7 linked regions of the Homo sapiens genome follow. The protein of the gene in region 5 purifies or fractionates together with the protein of the main gene of each other region. This does not show direct contact. Each region holds a gene or a part of one and is shown on either strand. Other genes may lie near its edges.

Region 1 (3,500 bases), on a different chromosome or scaffold from region 5:
AACCAGGAAAGAACATAACAAAGAAACAAAACTACAGACCAGTATCCCTGATGAACATAGATGCAAAAATCCTCCACAAAATAATAGCTAACTGAATCCAACAGCATATCAAAAAGATAATCCACCATGATCAAGTGGGTTTCATACCAGGGATGAAGGGATAGTTTAACATATGCAAGTCAATAATTGTGATATACCACATAAACAGAATTAAAAATAAAAATCATATGATCATTTCATTAGATACATAAAAAGCATTTGACAAAATCTAGCATCAATTTATGATTGAAATGCTCAGGAAAATCGGCATAGAAGGGACATACCTTAAGGTAATAAAAACCATCTATGACAAACCTGCAGCCAATATTATACTGAACAGGAAAAGTTGAAAGCATTCCCCCTGAGAACTGGAACAAGACAAAGATGCCCACTTTCACCACTTCTATTCAACATAGTACTTTAAGTCCTAGGCAAAGCAATCACACAAGAGAAAGAAATAAAGGGCATCCAGGACCAGGTGCAGTGGCTCATGCCTGTACTCCCAACACTTTGGGACACCGAGGCAGGTGGATTGCCTGAGCTCAGGAGTTTGAGACCAGCCTGGGCAACATGGCAAAACCGTGTCTCTACAGAAAAATACAAAAATTAGCCGGGCATGATGGTGCGCATCTGTAGTCCCAGCTACGTGGGGGGCTGAGGCGGGAGGATCGCTTGTGCCCTGGAGGTCAAAGCTGGGGGACAAAGCAAGACCTCATCTCTTATAACAAACAAACAAATGAAATAAAGAGCATCCAAATTGTTAAAGAGAAAGTCAAACTGTCGCTGTTTGCCGACAATATGATTGTATACCTAGAAAACCCTAAAGACTCATCCAAAAAGCTCCAAGAACTGGTAAATGAATTCAGTAAAGTTTCAGGGTACAAAATTAATGTACACAAACCAGTAGTACTGCTATACACGAAGAGCAACCAAGCTGAGAATCAAATCAAGAACCCAACCCCTTTTATAATAGCTGCAAAAAAAAAAAAAAAGATAAAATACTTAGGAATATATCTCACTACAGAAGTGAAAGGTCTCTACCAAAACACTGCTGAAAGAAATCATAGATGACACAAACAAATGGAAACACATCTCATGCTCATGAATGGGTAGAATCAATATTGTGAAAATGTCTATACAGCCAAGAGAATCTATAAATTCAATGCAATTCCCATAAAAATACCACCATCATTCTTCACAGAACTAGAAAAAACAATCCTAAAATTCATATGGAACCAAAAATGAGCCCACATACCCAAAGGAAGGCTAAGCAAATCTGGAGGCATCACATTACCTAATTTCAAACTATTTTACAAGGCTATAGTCACCAAAACAGCATGATACTGGCATAAAAATAGGTACATAGACCAATGGAAAGAATAGAGAACCCAGAAATAAAGCCAAATAGTTAAAGCCAACTGATCTTTGACAAAGCAAACAAAAACATAATGTGGGGAAAGGACACCCTATTCAGCAAACAGTGCTGGGATAATTGGCAAGCCACATGTAGAAGAATGAAACTGAATCTTCATCTCTCACCTTATACAAAAACCAACTCAAGATGGATCAAAGACTTAAATCTAAGACATGAAACCATAAAAATTCTAGAAGATAACATTGGAGAAACCCTTCTAGACATTGGCTCAGGCAAAGAGTTCATGATCAAGAACCAAAAGCAAATGCAACAAAAACAAAGATAAATAGATGGAACTTAAACTAAAAAGCTTCTGCACAGCAAAAGAAATAATCAGCAGAGTAAATAGACAACCCACGGAGTGGGAGAGAATGTTTGCAAACTACAGATCCAACCACAGACTAATATCCAGAATCTACAAGGAATTCAAACAAATCACCAAGGAAAAAAACAAATAATTCCATCAAAAAGTGGGCTAAAGACCAATAGACAATTCTCAAAAGAAGATATACAAATGGCCAACAAACATATGAAAAAATGCTCAACATCACTAATGATCAGCAAATCAAAACCACAATGTGATACCACTTTACTCCTGCAAGAATGGCCATAATTTAAAAAATAAAAACATAGGCCGGGTGCGGTGGCTCATGCCTGTAATCCCAGCACTTTGGGAGGCCAAGGCGGGCAGATCACCTGAGGTCAGGAGTTTGAGACCAGCCTGGCCAACATGGTGAAACCCCATCTCTACTAAAAATACAAAAATTAGCTTGGTGTGGTGGCAAATCCCTGTAATCCCAGCTACTCGGGAGGCTGAGGTGGGAGAATCGCTTGAACCCGGGAGGCGGAGGTTGCAGTGAGCCGAGATCATGCCACTGCACTCCAGCCTGGGCAACACAGTGAGACTCTGTTTCAAAATTAAAAAAAAAAAAAAGATGTTGGCATGGATGTGGTGAAAAGGGAACACTTTTACATTGCTGGTGGGAATGTGGACTAGTGCAACCACTATGGAAAACAGTATATGGAGATTTCTTAAAGAACCAAAAGTATATCTACCATTTGTTCCAGCAATCCCACTACTGGTTACTGCCCAGAGGAAAAGAAGTCATTATATGAAAAAGACACTTGCATGTGCATGTTTATAGCAGCACAATTCACAACTGCAAAAATACGGAACCAGCCCAAATGCCCATCAATCAACAAGTGGATAAAGAAAATGTGGTATGTATATATACCACAGAATACTACTCAGCCATAAAAAGGAACAATATATTGGCCAGGAACAGTGACTCACGCCTGTAATCCCAGCACTTTGGTAGGCTGAGGCAAGCAGATCACAGATCACTTGAGGTCAGGAATTTGAGACCAGCCTGGCCAACATGGTGAAACCCCATCTCTAATAAAAATACAAAAATTAGCTGGACATGGTGGCATGTACCTATAGTCCCAGCTACTTGGGAGGCTGAGGCAGGAGAATCACTTGAACCCAGGAGGCAGAAGTTGCAGTGAGCTGAGATTGAGCCCCGTTGCACTCCAGCGTGGGCAACAGAGCAAGTGAGACTCCATCTCAAAAAAAAAAAAAAAAAAAAAAGATAGAATGGCATTTGCAGCAATCTGGATGGAGTTGGTTGGAGACCATTATTCTAAGTGATGTAACTCAGGAATGGAAAACCAAAAATGATATGTTCTCACTTATAAGTGGGAGCTAAGCTATGAGGATGCAAAGTCGTAAGAATGACACAATGGACTTTGGGGATTCAGGGGGAAGTGTGGGAGGTGGGTGAGAGATAAAAGACTACACATTGGGTACGGTGTACACTGCTCGGGTGGTGGATGCACCAAAATCTCAGAAATCATCAATGAAGAACTTATTCATATAATCAAACACCACCTGTTCTCCAAAAACTATTAGGGGGAAAAAAACTATGGTCCTGAGCTGACCACTTTACTGCAAAATAAATAAAAATATGATTTTTTAAAAAGTTGTAAAACAGACCATGTTTTGTCTTTGCTTAAAACCCTTTAATGGTTTTCTAGCACTCTTAGG
Region 2 (3,500 bases), on a different chromosome or scaffold from region 5:
TCCGTCGCCCAGGCTGGAGTGTGATGGCATGATCTTGGCTCATCGCAACCTCTGCCTCCCAGGTTCAAGTGATTCTCCTGCCTCAGCCTCCTGAGTAGCTGAGATTACAGGCGTGCGCCACCACACCCGACTAATTTTGTATTTTTAGTAGAGATGGAGGTTTCACCATGTTGGCCAGGCTGGTCTTGAACTCCTGACCTCAGGCGATCCAGCTTCCTCGGCCTCTCAAAGTGCTGGGATTACAGACGTGAGATACCACACCCAGCCATTCAGCATTTTCTTGACAGGCTAACTCATATGAGTTCTAGGGCTCTTGTTTTGGTCACCTCCTCTCCCAGGAAGGCTTCCTGGATTCCCCCAGCCACGATCCAGTGTGCGTTCCTCTGTGCTCCCGGAGCACCTGGTCCCTCCTCTATCACGGTGGTCCTCATCCTGCCTACATTCAAAGCCTATATTCCGTCTGCATCCCATCGGCCCCTGAGCTTTGGAGGAGAGGGCCATGTCCCAGTCTCCACTGTGACCCAGGACTGAGGGTTGGCCTGGCTTAACTGTGCCAAGGAATCTTCTGCTGTCTTCAGGTGCTCAGTGCAGCACAGGGCAATGGGGGGAGCGGGTGGTCCACAAATAAATACAGGAAGGCCAACCTGGGCACACTCCAGGTCAGGCCTTCTTAGTATTTTCTGTGCCATGAACCCTTCAGGCAGTCTGGTGAAGCCCCTGGGTCCCCTCCTCAAAAAATGTTTTTTTAAAATTTTAAGATAAATTACACAGAATTACAAAGGAAATCAACTCAGTTGGAACAGTTATCAAAACATTTAGGAAAAAACTCCAAACGCATGCTGTAGTGATATACAAACTTCTTGTTAATGCACCAAATAACAAGATCTAGGGGTGGGTCCACTATTACTGTAATTTTGATGTAGTGAGAAATATTTCTATATATCAGCAGTAACTATAACTTCATATGAAATACCTGTGATTTCCACTGGGGATAAAGTCACAAGATTTTCTTTTTATTTTTTTAAAAATTTTAAGCTGGGCGCAGTGGCTTATGCCTATAATCCCAGCACTTTAGGAGGCCAAGGCGAGTGGATTACCTGAGGTCAGGAGTTTGAGACCAGCCTGGCTAACATGGTGAAACCCCATCTCTACTAAAATACAAAAATTAACTGGGTGGGCATGGTGGTGCACACCTGTAGTCCCAGCTAATCGGGAGGCTGAGGTGGGAGGATCACTTGAGCCTGGGAAGCTTCAACTGCAGTGGGCTGAGATTGCACCGTTGTACTCCAGCCTGGGCAACAGAGCGAGACCCTGCCTCAATAAAATTTTTTTTTTTTTTGGGTTCAGGGACTACATGTGCTTGTTTGTTATGTGGGTAGTCACAGGCCTTTCTAATGCTGTGAGGTTTATTGTCTACATTTATAATCAAAGGTCACACTACATATTTTAGCTACATTAGTAATAAATAATAATGTTATTTTTTCCTCATCCATGTTCACAGACCCCTGAATTCTATCCACATACTGGGGGGGATTAAGAACCCCCATTCTAAGCCCACCAGAGGACACCTATGAAGGCTCAACACAACCACAGCGCACCCCCTCCTCCCAGTGCACTGAGGACAGCAGGCTGACGGCAGGGAGGGATCCAAGGATGGCAGTGAGGCCCCCACCAGCTCCAGAGGAGGCAGCAGGAGCTCCCCTGCAGCCAGGGGTGCAGGGAGACACAAGGCAGATCTCTGCGATGTTCACTTGGCACTGAAGCAGGCAAAGGGTATCTACAGACAGCCTCGATGGGCAGCCAGGACATTCCGGCCCGTATGAGCAATGCTCCTAGGATACTGTTTGCTGAAGAAAACATTTAAATTAAGAGAAGAGGGGCCGGACGTGGTGGCTCACGCCTGTAATCCCAGCACTTTGGGAGGCCCAGGCGGGCAGATCACTTGAGGTCAGGAGTTCGAGACCACCTGGCCAACATGGTAAAACCCCGTCTCTAATAAAAATACAAAAATTAGCCGGGTGTGGTGGCGGGTGCCCGTAATTCCAGCTACTCGGGAGGCTGAGGCAGAACTGCTTGAACCTGGGAGGCGGAGACTGCAGTGAGCCAAGATCACGCACTGCACTCCAGCATGGGTGACAGAATGAGACTCTGCCTCAAAAAAAACAGGAAAGAGAGGAGGGAGACAGACCCCAAAGTTTTCAGTCCTGTTAGGGGCAAGTGTAGCCTTCTGCTGGCACTCACGATCGGGGACTCAGCAATGTCCTGCGGGGATGGGGAGAGGAGAGTGGAAGAGGAGTGGGGATAAGGTCACCTGAGAGCACGTCATTTGGCACCTGAGCCCTGCGGCTGCCCCTGCCTATCTCCCTGTCTTGGAGGTCTGGTATGTTCCTTCTCTGTGCCCCACACCAGTGGCTGGGCCAGGCTACTGTCAGCACTCGCACCATCTCACTTCACCACTTCTGAGCCTGGCAGATGACACTCCTTGGTCAGAGTGGCCTGCCTGGCCTGAAGCCCCATAGGGGCTGGCTCACCAGTGGGAGCCAGTCACACACCTTTCCGGAAAGTCACACACCTTTCCAGAAATGCACGACAGGAATTCTGGCTCATTTTCGGATGGGTTAACAGGCTTGGAGAGGGCACGTGACGCCCCAGGTCTCTTGGTTGAGTGCCAGCCCTGGGATTAGCATCCAGAACTGTCAGCCTACTATGCCGAGTGCACCTCAAGGCTGCAGGGGCAGGATGGACAGAAACCACTCACCCTAAAAGCTTCTGCCAAGGCAGTGGCGCCATCATTCTCCAGACGGTTTCTGCCAGCCACAAAGACCTTCAGGGCCAGAGGCTTGCCTTGGGCACTGGATTTCCGGTGACATTCGGTCAGAGCTGCAGCCAGGATCTGTGGGGAAAGGCAAGGGGCCCTGGTCATGGGCAGGAGCCCCTTCTCCCAGCGGGGTGGCCACTGCTGCTGAACTGCTCTTCAACATCCCACGCCACCCATCGGTGCAGGTCAGGGGACGCAGGACTGCTAACAGCTCAACAGTCACACCTTAAATATGTCCAGCACTTCAGTTACACAAGGTTTTTATCTCTAATGCTGTGTCACACCAGCCTGAGAGGTTTAGCTTCACTTTCGAGACGGGGAGACCAAGCCCTACTCAGGAAAGGGAGAGACCACATGGAGTGGATGAACTTTTAGCCAGGTCCAGGGGAAGGACTTCCTAGTCAGCTCACTTCACTGTCTAAGGCCCTCTGCTAGGTGGGAAAATCATGGCTCCCATTTTCCAGCTGAAGAAACTCAGGGTAAGAGGAACGGAAACTTTCTTATGGTCAATAAACAAGTGGTGGACTCTGGACCAAAGCCCAAATCTTCCAGCTTCTCTTCCACGTTCCACAATGTCCAAGGGAGCCAGCTGCCAAGTCCACGGTCCAGACGAACCTGTCTGACACCTGCCTGTGCCTAAAAGCTGGCCAGGCACAGCAGGAGCTTGCCTGCTGGTGGTAAA
Region 3 (3,500 bases), about 130 Mb from region 5:
AATCATGGGGACAGGTCTTCCCCATGCTGTTCTCGTGATGGTGAATAAGTCTCACAAGATCTGATGGTTTTAAAAACGGGAGTTTCCCTGCACAAACTCTCTCTTTGCCTGCGCCTTCCACATAAGATGTGACTTGTTCCTCCTTACCTTCCAGCATGACTGTGAGGCCTCCCTAGCCATGTGGAACTGTAAGTCCATTAGACCTCTTTTTCTTCCCCAGACTTGGGTATGCCTTTATCAGCAGTGTGGAAACAGACTAATACAGTGATTATTCTTTAAAAAAAAGAATAATTTTTTTTTTAAAGAGGCAGAGTCTCGCTCTGTAGCCCAGGCTAGGGTGCAGTGGCTCAATCATGTATAGCTATAATCTTGAAGCCCTAGGCTCAAGTGATCCTCCCACCTCAGCCTCCTATGTAGCTGGGACTACAGGTGTGTACCACCATGCCTGGCTAAGTTTTGTATTTTTTGTAGAGAGAGTCTTGCTCTGTTGCCTAGGCTGGTCTGGAACTCCTGGCCTCAAGCAATCCTTCCCTCAGCCAGCCATTATTCTTAACAGTTTACAACCTCATCCCCCCAGGCCATATCTGACCACCGCAGACAAACTTATGGCTAGAACCTTCCTGGGGGGCCGTTCCTACAAATCACCTGGTGGGCGCTAGAGCAGCACACCTTTCTGGTCAGGCTCATCACCCACCCTCTGAAGGCTCAATCTCTCAAATGTTTGTTTCTTCCCTGCTGATAGGAGGTGGCTTACAGGTATCCCAGAACCCCTCAGAACATACAACCCTCCCCTTTACCAAGATAAAGGCAAGTGGCTCAGGCCTGGGCTCCTGGTGCCTAGTCAGACAGGGGCCTGGGGGTGGGTCTTTCTGAGACTTCTGGGGTCTGGGCACAGGGCTGGGGGCAAAACAGGAAGTCCTCAGCCTAAGCACTCTGGCTGAAGAGCACATGATTGAGAGCACGCACTCTGTGCAAACCTGGCCCTGCCAGTCACTGCTGAGGGACCCAGGGCAGGTCCCTTAACTCCTGAGTGTTTCCTCATTTGTAAAGGGGGCCGGTCATGGCACCAGCCATAGCGGATGTTTAAAGAGCAAAAGAGGCCACGCATATGTATTACTCTGCCCTAGCCAGGAAAGAGGAAGAGTCTGGGGGCGATGGTGAAGGGTGGGTCACCCAAGGACCACTCCCCAAAACTACCCAGGTTGGGGGTGGGGAGTAGGTGTGTTACCTGGCCTTGTCGAAGTATTTGCCGGTGTAGGCCATCCCACAAGCGGCCCCGAGGCCCTGGCCCAGGGAGCCAGTGGCCACGTCGGTGAAAGCTTGTTTCTGTCATAACAGAAGGCCACCGTTAATCTGAGAGGAGAAGGGATCCTGGTCTCACCCGCCTAGGGAGCCACACTCCCACCCAGCCCAGCAAGCCCTTCCTCTGCAGAAGGTCAGGCCCCAGGATGGCCTCTACCTAGCATGTGACTTCTTCTCCTAATGAACTAATTATAATTATAGGTTCAAATCCCAGCCCTGCCCACTAGCCAGCTATGTGGCCTCAGGCCTCAGGCAAGGGACTGAACCTCTGTGAGCCTCAGTTCCCACATCACCCACTTCACAAAGTGCTGGGAGAGAGAATCATGAAAAAATTGACAGAACATTTGCCCCTCGTGGGGACCCAGACCATGTGACAGTTTTTGTGGTAATCCATGAAGTCTTAACGTTTGCAGGGATGCCAGATGGCACCCCAAGGAACAAACTGGGTCCCTTCCCCAGGGTTTCGCCAGCATCCTGCAGCCACTCCCTTATCGAGTCCCCTCTCTTCCCAAGCTGTAGCTACCTAGCCAAGGAGGCCCAGTGCAGAAGGGTAGCTTGGGGAGAGGCCCTCCCTGAAGTCATCCCAGAGCACCCTGGCTGAGGCCTCAGAAGGCCTTCCCCTTTGGCACCAGCTTGGGTTGAATACGTGTCCCCAAAACACCTGCTTCTTTCCTTCCTCAACTCAATGCCCTCCTCCGCCTTTCAACACCTTTGGCTTCTCAGTGGGCACCCCCTACCCCCGTCCCACATGTCTGGGAAATAGGAAGTGGAGGCAGAGGCATGGGAGGCTCTGGCAGGAGCACTTACCGGGACCGGGTGCCCGTCCAAGTCGGAGCTGATCTTCCTCAGGTTCAGCAGCTCCGCCTCGGCCAGGAAACCAGCTTCAGCCCAGACCGCGTAGAGGATGGGAGCTGCATGGCCCTGCCGGGAGATGGATGGTGGGGTGAGGTCAGGTGGGGAGCGGTTCTACTTCGGGCTGTGCCTACTTCACACTGACCCCTGGGGCCCGGCCGAGCCGGCCAACTGCAGCATCCATTTCAGGGGAGGAAGCAAGTGAAGGCCACTTCTCCCCTTTCAGCCCTCTTCAGCCTCTTGGTTTTCAGCCCAAAGTTCCCACTGCCAAGGCCAGGCAGGCACTAAGACAGGTGCAGGGGGCACAGCTGTGAGGCTGGACGAAGCCAAAACCCCAGCAGGCAGCCGGCTGCCCTAATCCCTGGTTTGTGGCATGGGAACAACTTGGACAGACTTCTAAGCTCTAAAGCCTGCCCGAGAGACCAAACGCCACGGAGGCAGGCCTGAGCACAGGTGGATTTCAGGGATCTGTGGCTGTGATTCCACCCAGAAGGGGGGGGTCAGGGGGTCCCCATCCAAAACCCTGCTACAGCACACCACCACCCCGAGGGGGCAAGCCGTGGCCTCGGGAGCGCTGGCACAACACAGATAGAGCAGGTAGGGAGCCACAACCCAGACCGAGATGCCAGTCCTGCCTGTCAACACCCAGACTGGGCAGAACACACAACAGATGTTTCCGTAGTCCCCTACTCCATTTCTTTGAGTTAAAGCGTTGTTTATGTACCTGGGCTCCATGGCAGAGCAACCCATCAATTCAGTCCTGTATTCCTTAGCCAGCTGGGTCAGCACAGAGCAGGACACTGAGGGAGAGGCCAGGACGAGCAGGGAGAAGGCACCTGGGAGAGGTGGGCCCAGCCAGGTCTCCTCAAAGACCACTCACCATTCCAGGGCCCGTGTGACCCTAGTCCCAGGCAAGGTGTGGCTGGCAGTGGGCAGCTGGGCTCTTACCTTGGAGAGCACAAAGCGGTCATTGTGCGGATTCCGGGGGTCCTGGGACTTGTAGCGCATGGTGTGGAAAAAGAGGACAGCCATGATCTCTGCGGCGCTGCAGCATGACGTGGGGTGGCTGTGGCCCAGGAGAGAAGACAGACACAGGCATCATGGCCCTGCACTCCTGAGCTATTGTGCTCAGCTGTACAGGGACCTGGGGGTGCATGTCCTGAGGAGTCACACAGGCCTGGCTTATCAGACAGCCACGAGCTCTTGTTCCCTGGGAGGGTGACACATGGTCTCAAGAAGGCCACTCCTGGCAGTTTGGGGCCTGGGCCAGCTAGTGGGTGCTGGGGACTGTTGTACCTTTCCAGGGGCATCAGATCCTCAGAATCACGGCAACTGAAAATATCTGG
Region 4 (3,500 bases), on a different chromosome or scaffold from region 5:
GGGAGGCAACCTGGCACCTCCCAGGGCGGTGTGCAGGCAGACTCACCCATGACCTCCAGCTGCACATGCATGAAGCTCTCGGCCTCATCCTGGAGGGTGCTGTGGGCGCGCAATGGCACTGGCAAGAATCCGTACTCCTCCTTGTTGCACACATACATCTGAACCTCTGCAGTGGGCAGGGAAGCAACAGACAAATGTAAAAACAGGCGAGGCCCAGTGGCTCATGCCTTCCATCCCACGGCTTCAGGAGGCCAACGCAGGAGGATCGCTTGAGGTCAGGTGTCTGAGACCAGCCTGGGCAACAGAGCAAGACCTTATATCTACAAACAACTTTTTTTTTTTTTTAAGACAGAGTCTCACTCTCCCAGGCTGGAGTGCAGTGGCACTACCTTGGCTCACTGCAACCTCCGCCTCCCGGGTTCAAGTGATTCTCCTGCCTCAGCCTCCCTAGTAGCTGAGACTACAGGCACATGCCACCATGCCTGGCTAATTTTTTGTATTTGTAGAGACGGGGTTTCATCATGTTAGCCAGGATGGTCTCGATCTCCTGACCTCGCGATCCACCTGTCTTGGCCTCCTGAAGTGCTGGGATTACAGGTATGAGCCACCACGCCCGGCTCTACAAATAATTTTAAAATTAGCTGGGAATGGTGGTACCTGCCTATGGTCCCAGCTCCTCGGGAGGCTGTGGCAGGAGGATCACTTGAGCCCAGGAGACTTGAGGCTGCCATGAGCTATGATGGCACACTGCACTCCAGCTTAGGCAACAGGGCAAGGCCCTGTCTCAAAAACAAACCCAAAAAAAAAACAGTAAAAATGCATGTTGAGGCACAAAAAGGAAAGTTTGACAAAATGTGAGTTAAGTTACTTCCTTCTACATCTATCCTTTTCTGGATGGTTTAAATTTTGATGAGTGTGTATCTTTTTTTTTGAGACAGAGTCTCGTTCTGTCGCCCAGGCTGGAGTTCAGTGGTGCCACCTCGGCTCACTGCAACCTCCGCCTCTGGGGTTCAAGCAATTCTCCTGCCTCAGCCTCCCAAGTAGCTGGGATTACAGGCACCCGCCACCACACCCAGCTAATTTCTGTATTTTTTTTTAGTAGAGGTGGGGTTTCACCACGTTGGCCAGGCTGGTCTCGAAATCCTGACCTCAAGTGATCCACTGAGCCCAGCCAAGTGTGTATCTTTTTTAGACTAAAAAACTCAATGATGCTCTTTTAATTTAATTTATTTATTTTTTTTGAGACAGAGTCTCGCTCTGTCGCCCAGGCTGGATTGCAGTGGTGTGATCTCCGTTCACTGCCTCCTGGGTTCAAACAATTCTTGTGCCTCAGCCTCCCAAGTAGCTGGGACTACAGGCACCCACCACCATGCCCAGCCAATTTTTGTATTTTTAGCAGAGACGGGTTTCACCATGTTGGCCAGGCTGGCCTCAAACTCTTGACCTCATGTGATCCACCCACCTCACCCTCCCAAAGTGCTGGGATTACAGGCATGAGCCACTACACCCGGCCTCTTTTAATTTTAATTGGTCAATTTCTTCTATAAAGGGCCAGGTGGTAAGTATTTTAGGCTTGTGTGCCAGACGGTTTCTATCTCAATGACTCTGTTCTGCCTGTGGCACTTGAAAGCAGCTACAGACGACACTTAAATGAATGGGCTTGGCTGGGTACTGATGACACTTTATTGATGGGCAATGAAATCTGAATTTCATACAGTTTTCATGTGTCACAATATTCTTCTTCTTTTGATTCTTTTCCCCAGTGATTTAAAAATGTAAAAATTGGCCGGGTGTGGTGGCTCATGCCCGTAATCCCAGCATTTTGTGAGGCTGAGGCGGGTGAATCACCTGAGGTCAGGAGTTCGAGACCAGCCTGGCCAACAGGCAAAACCCCATCTCTACTAAAAATACAAAAATTAGCCAGGCGTGGTGGTGCACACCTGTAGTCCCAGCTACTAGGGAGGCTAAGGCAGGAGAATCAATTGAACCTGGGAGGTGGAGGTTGCAGTGAGCTGAGATCATGCCACTGTACTCCAGCCTGGGCAACGGAGGGAGACCCTGTGTCAAATAAATAAATAAATAATAAAAATGTAAAAATTGTTGGCCAGGCACCGTAGCTCACGTTTGTATTCCTAGCGCTTTGGGAGGCTGAGGTGGGAAGGATCACTTAAGGCCAGGAGTTCAAGTCTAGTCTGGGCAACATAGCAAGACCCCATCTCTACAAAAACATTTTTTTTTTCAATTAGCTGGGCATGTAGGCAGGTGCCTATAGCCCCAGCCAGTCTGGAGGCTGAGATGAGAGGATTGCTTGAGCCCAGGAGGTTGAGGCTGCAGTGAGCTACGATCACACCACTGCACTCCAGGCTGGGTGACAGAGTAAGACTGTGTCTCTAAAAAAATAAAAATAAAATATAAAAGTTGTTGTTAGCTTGTGGCCATATAAAAGTAATTAGTGGGGCCAGGCGCGGTGGCTCACGCCTGTAATCCCAGCACTCTGGGAGGCCGAGGTGGGCAGATCACAAGGTCAAGAGATCAAGACCATCCTGGCTAACACAGTGAAACCCCGTCTCTACTAAAAATACAAAAATTAGCCGGGCCTGGTGGCTGGTGCCTGTAGTCCCAGCTACGCGGAAAGCTGAGGCAGGAGAATGGCGTGAACCCAGGAGGCGGAGCTTACAGTGAGCCAAGATCGGGCCACTGCACTCCAGCCTGGGCGACAGAGCGAGACTCCGTCTCAAAAAAAAAAAAAAAAAAAAAGTAATTAGTGGGCCAGGTTTGGCCTGCAGGTCAGTTTGCCAACCTCTGGTTTCCAGTAAACAACAAGTCAACATGAGGCTGTGCTGTCTCTTTAAATATTTGTTTTCCCAATTAAACAATTAATATATGCTCAACTGTAGAAAATTAGGAGAATGGCCCAGGTGCAGTGGCTCCCTCCTGTAATCCCGGCACTTTGGGAGGCCGAGGTGGGCGGATCACCTGGGGTCAGGAGTTTGAGACCAGCCTGGCCAACCTGGGGAAACCCTGTCTCTACTATAAATATAAAAATGAGCCAGACATGGTGGCGTATGCCTGTAATCCCAGCTACTTGGGAGGCTGAGGCAGGAGAATCTCTTGAACCAGGAGGCAGAGGTTGCAGTGAGCCGAGATCGCACCACTGCACTCTAGCCTAGGTGACAGAGCAAGACTCTACTTCAAAAAAAAAAAACAAAAGAAAATTGGGAGAATATAGAAAAGTATGAAGATTGAAATAACATTTGGGGTTGATCATGGAAAATTGTGTAACGGGTTCAATGTATATTATTTGGGGATGGATGCCCTAAAATCTCTTGACTCACCACTTCACAATCTATGCACGTGACAAAATTACACTTGTGCTCCATAAATTTACACAAATTAAAAAATAATAGTAACATGCAATCAATAGGTATTTTTTTCTTGAGAAGGATTCTTACTTTGTTGCCCAGGCTGGAGTGCAGTGGCATGATCTCGGCTCACTGCAA
Region 5 (2,230 bases):
GTGCTTGTTTGAACATGTTGCTAACTTTCAACTACCTTTGCCAGTGGGAATTAGGATTGGCTGAAAATTGGACAGTCCAAAATGGTGTTTTAAGCTTTCCACTCTCAATGCTTCTTACCAAAATAATTTCTCAGAAGCCAGATTTTCATCTTCATTTTCTCTCTCTGCTCCCTGTATAGTGGGGTCAGTAGTAACAGGAGTAGCTACCGGATGGGCAGCAGGAAAGCATAGGGAAGAAGCAGAGTGCCAGTCTAGCTTTTACAGAATACTCAAGAAGAGGCTGTCACCAAATAAAATGATGATTGCCCCTTCCTTTCGTGGCTGTGTCAAATACAAGAATCGCAGAAACTAGCTTTCTCCATTACCTGCTTTTTGTGGCTGCAGGAAACCCAGTCATGGAAAGTCTTCCTTTCCCTCAAGTTCTGACAAATGCTGAGATTATTAAGGCAGCTCTCAGGGCACAAACAGTACATTTAGAAAAAGACAGGACTAGAAAACAGTGAAGTACACTTTTTGTTTAATTCCATGCATTTGTTTGCTTTGATAGTCATTCTTGTTCCCATTGCCGTTCAATACAGAGAGGGAGCCGGCATCAGAAAACAACACTGGGAGCTGGGGACTGACAGTACAGGAGACCAGAGGGGAGCCAGGTAAGGAGGTTCATTTGGAGACCTAACCACAAAAGAGAAATTCATTCGCTCCAAGTCGATAGGAGCTCAAATTACTGTAATAAAGCGTCAAAGAGGGTCTTCCCACTTCCAGAGTCTGGGAAGTGGTCACTCTGAAGGTGAAGAGCCACTGGGGTGATATGGGCAAGATGGGACATCTTCCTAATAGCTTGCACATGCTGGCTGGGGTTCCCTTGGCCTGCAGTCACTGGAGGACCCTGTCCACCTGGTCACTGGACAGCAGCCTAGGGCCGGGAGCCAGCGATCCCTGAGTGCTGTGAAGTGGCTCTGGAGAGCAGACCTGGGATGCTGCCGGGAGCTTCCTTACAGTGGCCTTGCCATCTGCTTAGGGCTCTGCTCTGTGAAGTCCTGCCATCGTACCCTGGCCACATGACAGTTAACAAAAGCCTTAACCCACCTCCTGTTTCTCAGAGCAGTGATTTTAGAGCTCCCCTCTTTAGCCACCTGTCCCTGAGAAATGCTCCAGGTTCCACAAGGGTCCTCTGCTTAGCCTAGTTCAGTCCGACTTGAATAGGCTTTTGCAGTATCAGTTGTAACATGCAAACAAGCAGATTAATATGATTCTAATGTGCCAGTCTGTGAGGGTGGGACACTGGTGGTGTGAGTATGCTAGGATATTTGTCCTATGAAATCAGCAAAGAAGAAACATTTTGCTGCCTGGAAAGGCACTAAATTCATACTGACCGTACAAGTCAAAGTCTCGAAAAGAATGTCACATTGTTTTGGTACATGAGTCTCACAGAGTCTAAGAAGCAAGTAACTGGGACTTATATTAATTTTCTGTTTATAAAAGGTGAGGGAGGAACATATTCATTCAACAGAATTAAATGATGTGAATGAAGAGACATTTTGGAATGGGATCCATCAGTGATTGGTGTTCCTTCAATTGGAATTGTTGTCCAAAAGGGCAGTGGGTAGAGGCAAGTGGCCTTTCCCCTTTCTGTGGTACCGCCCCTGACAGCCACAGGTGGACACTAGTGCGAGCCTGTCGTTCTGCCATTGGGGCTAACTCAAGCTCAAATGGCAATTCCAATCAAGCGGCAATTGTTGCTCCAAGTGCTATGTTGAGAGGTTCTGAGGCTGTGTCTAGGCTCAGTAGGAAAGATACGATGCTCAATACATAATGTTGGTCTTGGTCTTGGAGGTGGTAGATGGTGGTAAGTGGTAGTATAATATTTCGGCTTCTGGCTCAGTGGGAAAACAAAACATAGCACACTCTACTGCAGAGCAGGGCAGGAATTCTATGGATTATAAATATTATGTTCTGGAGAATTCAGTTCCAGGAAGTTCAAGTGGGACTGTTTTAAGAAAAGGAAAAAAAAATTGAGACATGAGGACATTGAAGAAAAAAAGAGTAAATCATTTGATCAAAAAGGATGCATTTATTCTTAAAGGATGCCAATGTTCCACAGTGGGAGAGGGCATTTAAAATAGTCTGGAGGCTGGGCATGGCAGCTCACGTTTGTAATCCCAGTACTTTGGGAGGCCAAAGCAGGAGGATCGCTAGAGCCCAGAGTTCGATACCAGCCTGGGCAACACAG
Region 6 (3,500 bases), on a different chromosome or scaffold from region 5:
GACCCTTAAACTTGCAATGAGAACCATCTGCTTTTTCCAGTACATCAAAAATATTACCAGAAACTACCTATCCTTAAGTAGGTAGCAGGGATTTAACGAAGATGCCCAGATTATTGACTTTTTTTTCTGTAACGTTATGACTGCTCTGGATAAGCCACGGGCGACCTCTTGTGCAGAAGCTCTGGCTGGCAACTCTGAGTGTTTCCAAATACTAGACTTCCTCTAAGGGGACAAGGGCTTTCAATACTTGCACTTTTGGAAGGATGTGGAACTAAGGAATATTTTGTTAGTAACACAATCTCATCCAAAGTTTTCATTTTACAGAGAAGATAATCAGAGCTCAGAAAGCTCAAGGTGCTTGCCCAAGATCACACAGCAAGTCAGAGGCAGAACTTTTAGGGGAAAGGGCCAGGACTTATTAAAGAGGGGCAGCATAGATGCATGCAGATAGATTCCACTTTAACCTCCTCCTCCACTTTGGAATCTATACTTCATAGGACTAGAAGATAGCCAGGCAAGGTGGATGTGGTGGTATTATCCCCATTAGCCAGTTTAAACAACTGAGGCACAGAGAGATCTGTAAAGTGCCCGAGGTCACACAGGTATCTAGGACTAGAATCCAGGTCTCCTGAATCTTAAGCCAGTGGTCCTCCTTCCTATATCAAAACAAGATGGCAGAATAAGACCGGAGCAGCCACTCAACCCTGCCCCTCCTGACCGACGGCTCCCAGTCCCACTGCCCATGGCCAGCCATGATGATCTACCATAGCCCGGCTGGCCTCTGAGTCAACGCAGCTGGCCTGTGCCTGGAGCCGCTTACCTGTGTGCTGGATGGCCCCACAGCACGCCGGGGCACCTTGATATCAAATCCACCTTTGGGGTCCTTCTCCCCTCTCAAGCATGGGTCATTAGGGGGCTCTCGCCCTCCCTCCCAGTCACAGATGGTCTTTCGAATTGCCTGTAGGACGCTGGGGAAGGAAGAACTAAGACTTAGACCAGGTTTCACCATGGGAAAACGTCACTACAAGCTTGTGTTTCTAGGGCCCGTGGTGTCCCAGGAACACCCACATTTGAATTCTTGGGGTGCTTGTAAAGCATGCTCATTTCTGCCCCAATTCCAAAACTCTGGTTTAACAGATTTAAGGTACAGTCCAGGAATCTGTGTTTAAACAAGTGTCCTACATGGTTCTGATGTCCAAGGGATGTCTGAGAACTCAGCTCTGAGCCCATCGAGTGAGACAGAACTTGTGTGAGGCAAGAGGTCTGTATTTCCTTTCTGGTTATAGGGGAGTCTCACCGGTCTTATGAAATCTGTGTGTGCTTAGTTTTCATAATAGCTTAGATGTGCTGCATACTTACTCCATGCTGCATGTGCTTAGGTCTATATATGGACCATCTCATTTCATCATCCCAACAGGCAGCAGGTAGCATTATAATCCCCATTTTACAAATGAGGAAAACTGAGGTTTGGAGAAGGTCAGCAACCTGACCAAGTTCACACAGCTAGATAGCAGTGGATATGGACTTCTAGAGATGAAGGCTTAATTCATCCCAAATGCCCAATCTCCTAAAGAGCCCTCTGGAGCTTGCTGGAAGGACCCATGTGTGTTCAGTGGCTGAGCCAGGACATCCTCTCTGATGGGTACCTGGCATGCTTATGTCTGATATGCTCCTGAAGGCATCTGAAAACCCACCTGATGAGGACATTCTTCTTCTTCCGTACCGCCTGCCGCAGGGGCTCACGCAGCGTCACCTGGGCGAAGTCCTGCAATGCCGCGTAGATGGTGTTCCTGATGGCCTGGTTGAAGACGCTCTCCATCCTGCCCATGAGCACCTGCAGGCCTTTGATCATGGCGATCACCTGGGCAGGAAGAGGCCAAGGGTCATGTTCACCATGTCCAGCACACCAGCTGTCTACTACCCATCACCGCCCTGCCAGGGGAGGCGGGGAGTGAGATGTCCAGAGGCATGAGGCCAGTGCTACTCAAAGTGCCAGCGCATGGCTAGGTAAGAGATGTGTGCCAGAATGTACGTATATCAGCACTTGGCTTCATTCATTGAGAAAGTCTTGCTACAAAACACAAATGTCAGCTCAACTAACAGCATTCTTCGCAATGCAACTGATTTTCATCCTCGCATGAGCTCCCAATTTTGTTGTTCACTGCTGACAAATAGCAGCTGGCCCATGGGCCACAATTTGAGCATTTTGAGAAGTGCCTTGGCTTTTGAAGGCCTCTCCATAGACCAGGCACTCACAGACAACATCAAATAGAACTTTTTTAACATAAAATTTTCTAAAGAATTTTTACAACCTTTGTTTTTGAAACCGTTTGGCCAGTTGCTGCTTGAGTTTATAAAATCAAAACTTCTCCTGCAGAAGTCATGGGGGAGAATGCCTCTACTCCCCTATTTCCCTTCTCCTTACCCTAACTCACTTATCTGTTTGGAGAGATGGGGATTCAGGCACGTGTGATGAGAGGAGCCTGGCCTGACCTTGGCTCGCTCTTTTGGGACCTGCCTGCCTGCAAGTATGTGGCCTCCCTTCTAGGTTTCTGGCTGCTTCTTGCAGTAACCATCCCCTGCCCATCCCGAGGAAGGGAGGCGTGTATCTATGCAGCTGCTTTGCCTATTACCTAGTGGCAAGTTTAATGAGATGTAGGAGGCATAGGAACACTGGTGTGGCCTTGGGTGAAAACCACATTCTCTAGTCTAGCTTTACCAGCAGTAAGTCTGAGCCTTTGACTCCATTGGCCTCTAATATTAATTTCTCAATTGATTCAGAATTCAGAGGGAAAGGCATGTGGCAGATCGTCCACCTCACAACTGCCACACAGATCACACCCATAATGGCATGTTCCACCTTCTACACCAGACTGGAAATACACAGGACAGGGCCCAGCTATGCTGTGCACGCCCAACTGCCAGTGTCTGGGTCCATGGTGGGCAGACACATTTTCTGTTGAAAAGGAACAAATAAATGAATGAATGAGCTCAGACCCTAAGGCTGTTTTTTTCTCTAAAACTTAAAGGAAGAAAAAGAACATTTTTAGATAGAACTGGTATGAAAACAACTCAGGAGGTGATGGTTTTCATTGGCACCAACAGTACAACAATTTTGTTGGTGATGAGCTTTAGTGCAGAGAAATAATGGGAGAGAAGCATTAGAGGACTGTTAGATCATAACAGAATCTGGGCCCCTGGCTACAGATATAACTAGGAGACATTAGGAAAAAGGAAGGAGTAAATAATGAAGATGTCTCAGAATGGCTCCAAATACAGAGGAGTGGGCAGGCCTGTTGGATCTAAAGGAAAAATCTTTACAACTCTAGACAAGGCAAAGATTTCTTAGCTGAAACCCCCAAATCACTAACCACCAAATAACTGACAAATTGGACTTCATCAAAATTAAAAACAGCTGCTCTTCAAAAGGCACCCTTAAAAAATGAAAAGGCAAAGTCACTGATGAGAAAAAATATTTGCGACATATATTTGACTGAAGA
Region 7 (2,402 bases), about 25 Mb from region 5:
TCCAACTTTTCTTAGGTGGTCGAACACTGAAATGATTAAGAAAATCATAGTCAAATTACCTGTAAAGCTAAAGTTAAGACTTTGTGATTTGCTTTCCATAATTGAGTTCTACTATCTTTTTTAGGAATCTGTAACTTGCTTTTCACAAATATGAATTCTCTTTTCTGTTATTTTATAAAAACGTTATTGGAGGATGCATACATAGGAGCACATACCAAAGTTTTAAGATTTAAAGAGCAAGCTAAGTATTATACTTCTTGCTATTCTTTCTCCTTATCAAATACAATTTCTCAATCCTCATGTTAAAAATGCCTTGAAAATTTAAGAAAAGATGAACTAGACAAATATTTTGTAAATACTGGCTGTCTGCCCCTGTAAACTGCAAGCATAAATAGCATGCAAGCAAATTAGTATTTACTAGTAAATGAAACAAGTTGTACATCTTGCCTTCACATCCTACCTCCAAGAAATACTGAGTTTGGAGAATATGTAGAAAAAGGTAACAGTGGGATTATAAACTCAGCATAATTACACACCTGAACATGATTCCTTCAGAGAAAGGATCCAAGCTGTCTACAAGCTCGAGTTCGGCGTCCCCTCCCAAAGTAAGCATTTGGTAATTTTCCTTTAATTTATTTGTTATTATATAAAAACCTGCCATAAATTCATTAAGCCTTTGTTTCCGAAGATCTTCATATGCCTGTCTAAAACTGTCTCTTTCATAAGTAATTTTGTCCAATTCTGCTACCCGTTGCAAATACAATTCTTCCTGTGAAAAGATTATGATAGGGAAAATCTATTCAGATAAATTTGATATGATAATTAGCATTGTTAATTATTACTTTGTTTTGAGACGTAGTCTTGCCCTGACGCCCAGGCTGGAGTGCAATGGCGCGATCTCGGCTCACGGCAACCTCCACCTCCCAGGTTCAAGCGATTCTCCTGCCTCAGCCTCCCGAGTACCCGGGATTACAGGCACGTGCCACAACGCCTGGCTAATTTTTTGTATCTTTAATAGAGATGAGGTTTCACTATGTTGGCCCAGCTGGTCTCGAACTCCTGACCTTGTGATCCACCCGCCTTTGGCCTCCCAAAGTGCTGGGATTACAGGCGTGAGCCACCACGCCCGGCCAACAGCATTGTTAATTATACAAAACTAAAGATCAGAATTTAGGCTAAGGACTAAAAAGAACTCCAACTAGTATACATACACAGTTCATTCATACCTTCTTTTTATACTCTGCGATGGCACCGAGGTTTGGTTTCATTTCATGACACCGGGCTTCCAAAAGTGCAATTTGATTTGTTATAGAATCTGGATTCTTGATCGCTTCAAGATCCTCTGGGCTTAGAACCGAAATCTCTTCAATAGGATTATCTTCTATAGGATGCAGTGATATTTTTGAAATCTAAAAGTTCAATTTAGGGGAGAGTTAGAGAAGGCATAATATTACATACAATTCATTGTTTAAAAAAAAATATGACAAATTACACAGCTATGAAAACAACAGGAGTTGTGACTGATTTATCAATTATTTTTCAAAGGACTTCAAGAAAAATAGTTGTAACACTCAAAAGTGTCCATGTAATCTTTTCTTAAATGTCCAGATCAGCCCTAGGGTGAAAGGGTAGTTGTCTAATTCTAATCGTTACTCAGACTTTTCTGTATATAACAATTTATATTGTTATGTCCCCTATAAACCTTAGAAGTGATCACAGAATTAAAAATCACAATGTAGCTCACAAACAAAATTTAAGAACCCCAACCCCCTAAAACAATCCTCCCCAAACCCTCCTTTTTCATAAAGAATATGTTTAAAATTAAACTAAACGGTAACAATCTCACCTCTTTGTGCCAATATTTTATTTTAGAATTATGTTCAGCAATGTGACCATCTATTTGTTCAAGTTTCAACTTAATACTAAGTGCATCTTTTTGAAGAGCATGTTCATTTTCTTGAATAACTTTTAATTCTTGAAGCAGATTGCGATGTTCTTTCTGGATCTCTGGTAAGGATTCCTAAACACCGAAAAGAACTGCTAGATAGAATTTTCCAAATAGAGCCATCATTTTCACATTACAGAGATGAAGGAATTACCAATCTCTCCTCATGCCCCTTCCATTTTAAAATAATTTAAGCATTTAAATTCACAAATTATAGTATTCTTATTGTACAAATAAAAATTGATAGTTATAAAACTTTAAGTCTATGAGTGCTTACTACATTCTAGGCACTGTCATATATCCAGCTCTTTAAATTGGTTCCAGTATCATCCCATCTCCTCTTCAATACAAAGCAACTCATACCTCTGCAGCATTTGTATTCTTTACGACCTCTGCTGCTTTGTCCTCAAGACTTTTCAGCTCTGCTGTTAGGTCATCCACCTCTTTCTCAGTATCT

The links.
Region 1: the proteins of MAP3K13 (region 5) and KLHL20 purify together in Homo sapiens (affinity purification with mass spectrometry; 2 studies listed by BioGRID and IntAct, with this or other methods). This does not show direct contact.
Region 2: the proteins of MAP3K13 (region 5) and RANGAP1 purify together in Homo sapiens (affinity purification with mass spectrometry, with the first as the bait; one study listed by BioGRID). This does not show direct contact.
Region 3: the proteins of MAP3K13 (region 5) and TKT purify together in Homo sapiens (affinity purification with mass spectrometry, with the first as the bait; one study listed by BioGRID). This does not show direct contact.
Region 4: the proteins of MAP3K13 (region 5) and COLGALT1 purify together in Homo sapiens (affinity purification with mass spectrometry; one large-scale study listed by BioGRID and IntAct). This does not show direct contact.
Region 6: the proteins of MAP3K13 (region 5) and CYFIP2 purify together in Homo sapiens (affinity purification with mass spectrometry; one large-scale study listed by BioGRID and IntAct). This does not show direct contact.
Region 7: the proteins of MAP3K13 (region 5) and SMC4 purify together in Homo sapiens (affinity purification with mass spectrometry; one large-scale study listed by BioGRID and IntAct). This does not show direct contact.

The regions. Positions count from the first base shown.
Region 1 is NC_000001.11:173,735,481-173,738,980, reverse strand, and holds part of KLHL20 (kelch-like protein 20), read right to left. Parts: intron 1-3,500. UniProt on the Homo sapiens protein: Substrate-specific adapter of a BCR (BTB-CUL3-RBX1) E3 ubiquitin-protein ligase complex involved in interferon response and anterograde Golgi to endosome transport.
Region 2 is NC_000022.11:41,258,688-41,262,187, forward strand, and holds part of RANGAP1 (ran GTPase-activating protein 1), read right to left. Parts: intron 2,894-3,500; coding exon 2,759-2,893; intron 1-2,758. UniProt on the Homo sapiens protein: GTPase activator for RAN. Converts cytoplasmic GTP-bound RAN to GDP-bound RAN, which is essential for RAN-mediated nuclear import and export. Mediates dissociation of cargo from nuclear export complexes containing XPO1, RAN and RANBP2 after nuclear export.
Region 3 is NC_000003.12:53,239,023-53,242,522, forward strand, and holds part of TKT (transketolase), read right to left. Parts: intron 3,221-3,500; coding exon 3,103-3,220; intron 2,224-3,102; coding exon 2,110-2,223; intron 1,327-2,109; coding exon 1,229-1,326; intron 1-1,228. UniProt on the Homo sapiens protein: Catalyzes the transfer of a two-carbon ketol group from a ketose donor to an aldose acceptor, via a covalent intermediate with the cofactor thiamine pyrophosphate.
Region 4 is NC_000019.10:17,569,149-17,572,648, reverse strand, and holds part of COLGALT1 (procollagen galactosyltransferase 1 precursor), read right to left. Parts: intron 679-3,500; exon of another isoform or gene 658-678; intron 167-657; coding exon 47-166; intron 1-46. UniProt on the Homo sapiens protein: Beta-galactosyltransferase that transfers beta-galactose to hydroxylysine residues of type I collagen. By acting on collagen glycosylation, facilitates the formation of collagen triple helix. Also involved in the biosynthesis of collagen type IV.
Region 5 is NC_000003.12:185,487,365-185,489,594, reverse strand, and holds the end of MAP3K13 (mitogen-activated protein kinase kinase kinase 13), read right to left. Parts: 3' UTR 501-2,230; downstream 1-500. UniProt on the Homo sapiens protein: Activates the JUN N-terminal pathway through activation of the MAP kinase kinase MAP2K7. Acts synergistically with PRDX3 to regulate the activation of NF-kappa-B in the cytosol.
Region 6 is NC_000005.10:157,318,123-157,321,622, reverse strand, and holds part of CYFIP2 (cytoplasmic FMR1-interacting protein 2), read right to left. Parts: intron 1,862-3,500; coding exon 1,695-1,861; intron 969-1,694; coding exon 821-968; intron 1-820. UniProt on the Homo sapiens protein: Involved in T-cell adhesion and p53/TP53-dependent induction of apoptosis. Does not bind RNA. As component of the WAVE1 complex, required for BDNF-NTRK2 endocytic trafficking and signaling from early endosomes.
Region 7 is NC_000003.12:160,430,650-160,433,051, reverse strand, and holds part of SMC4 (structural maintenance of chromosomes protein 4), read right to left. Parts: coding exon 2,309-2,402; intron 2,021-2,308; coding exon 1,847-2,020; intron 1,410-1,846; coding exon 1,227-1,409; intron 770-1,226; coding exon 537-769; intron 27-536; coding exon 1-26. UniProt on the Homo sapiens protein: Central component of the condensin complex, a complex required for conversion of interphase chromatin into mitotic-like condense chromosomes.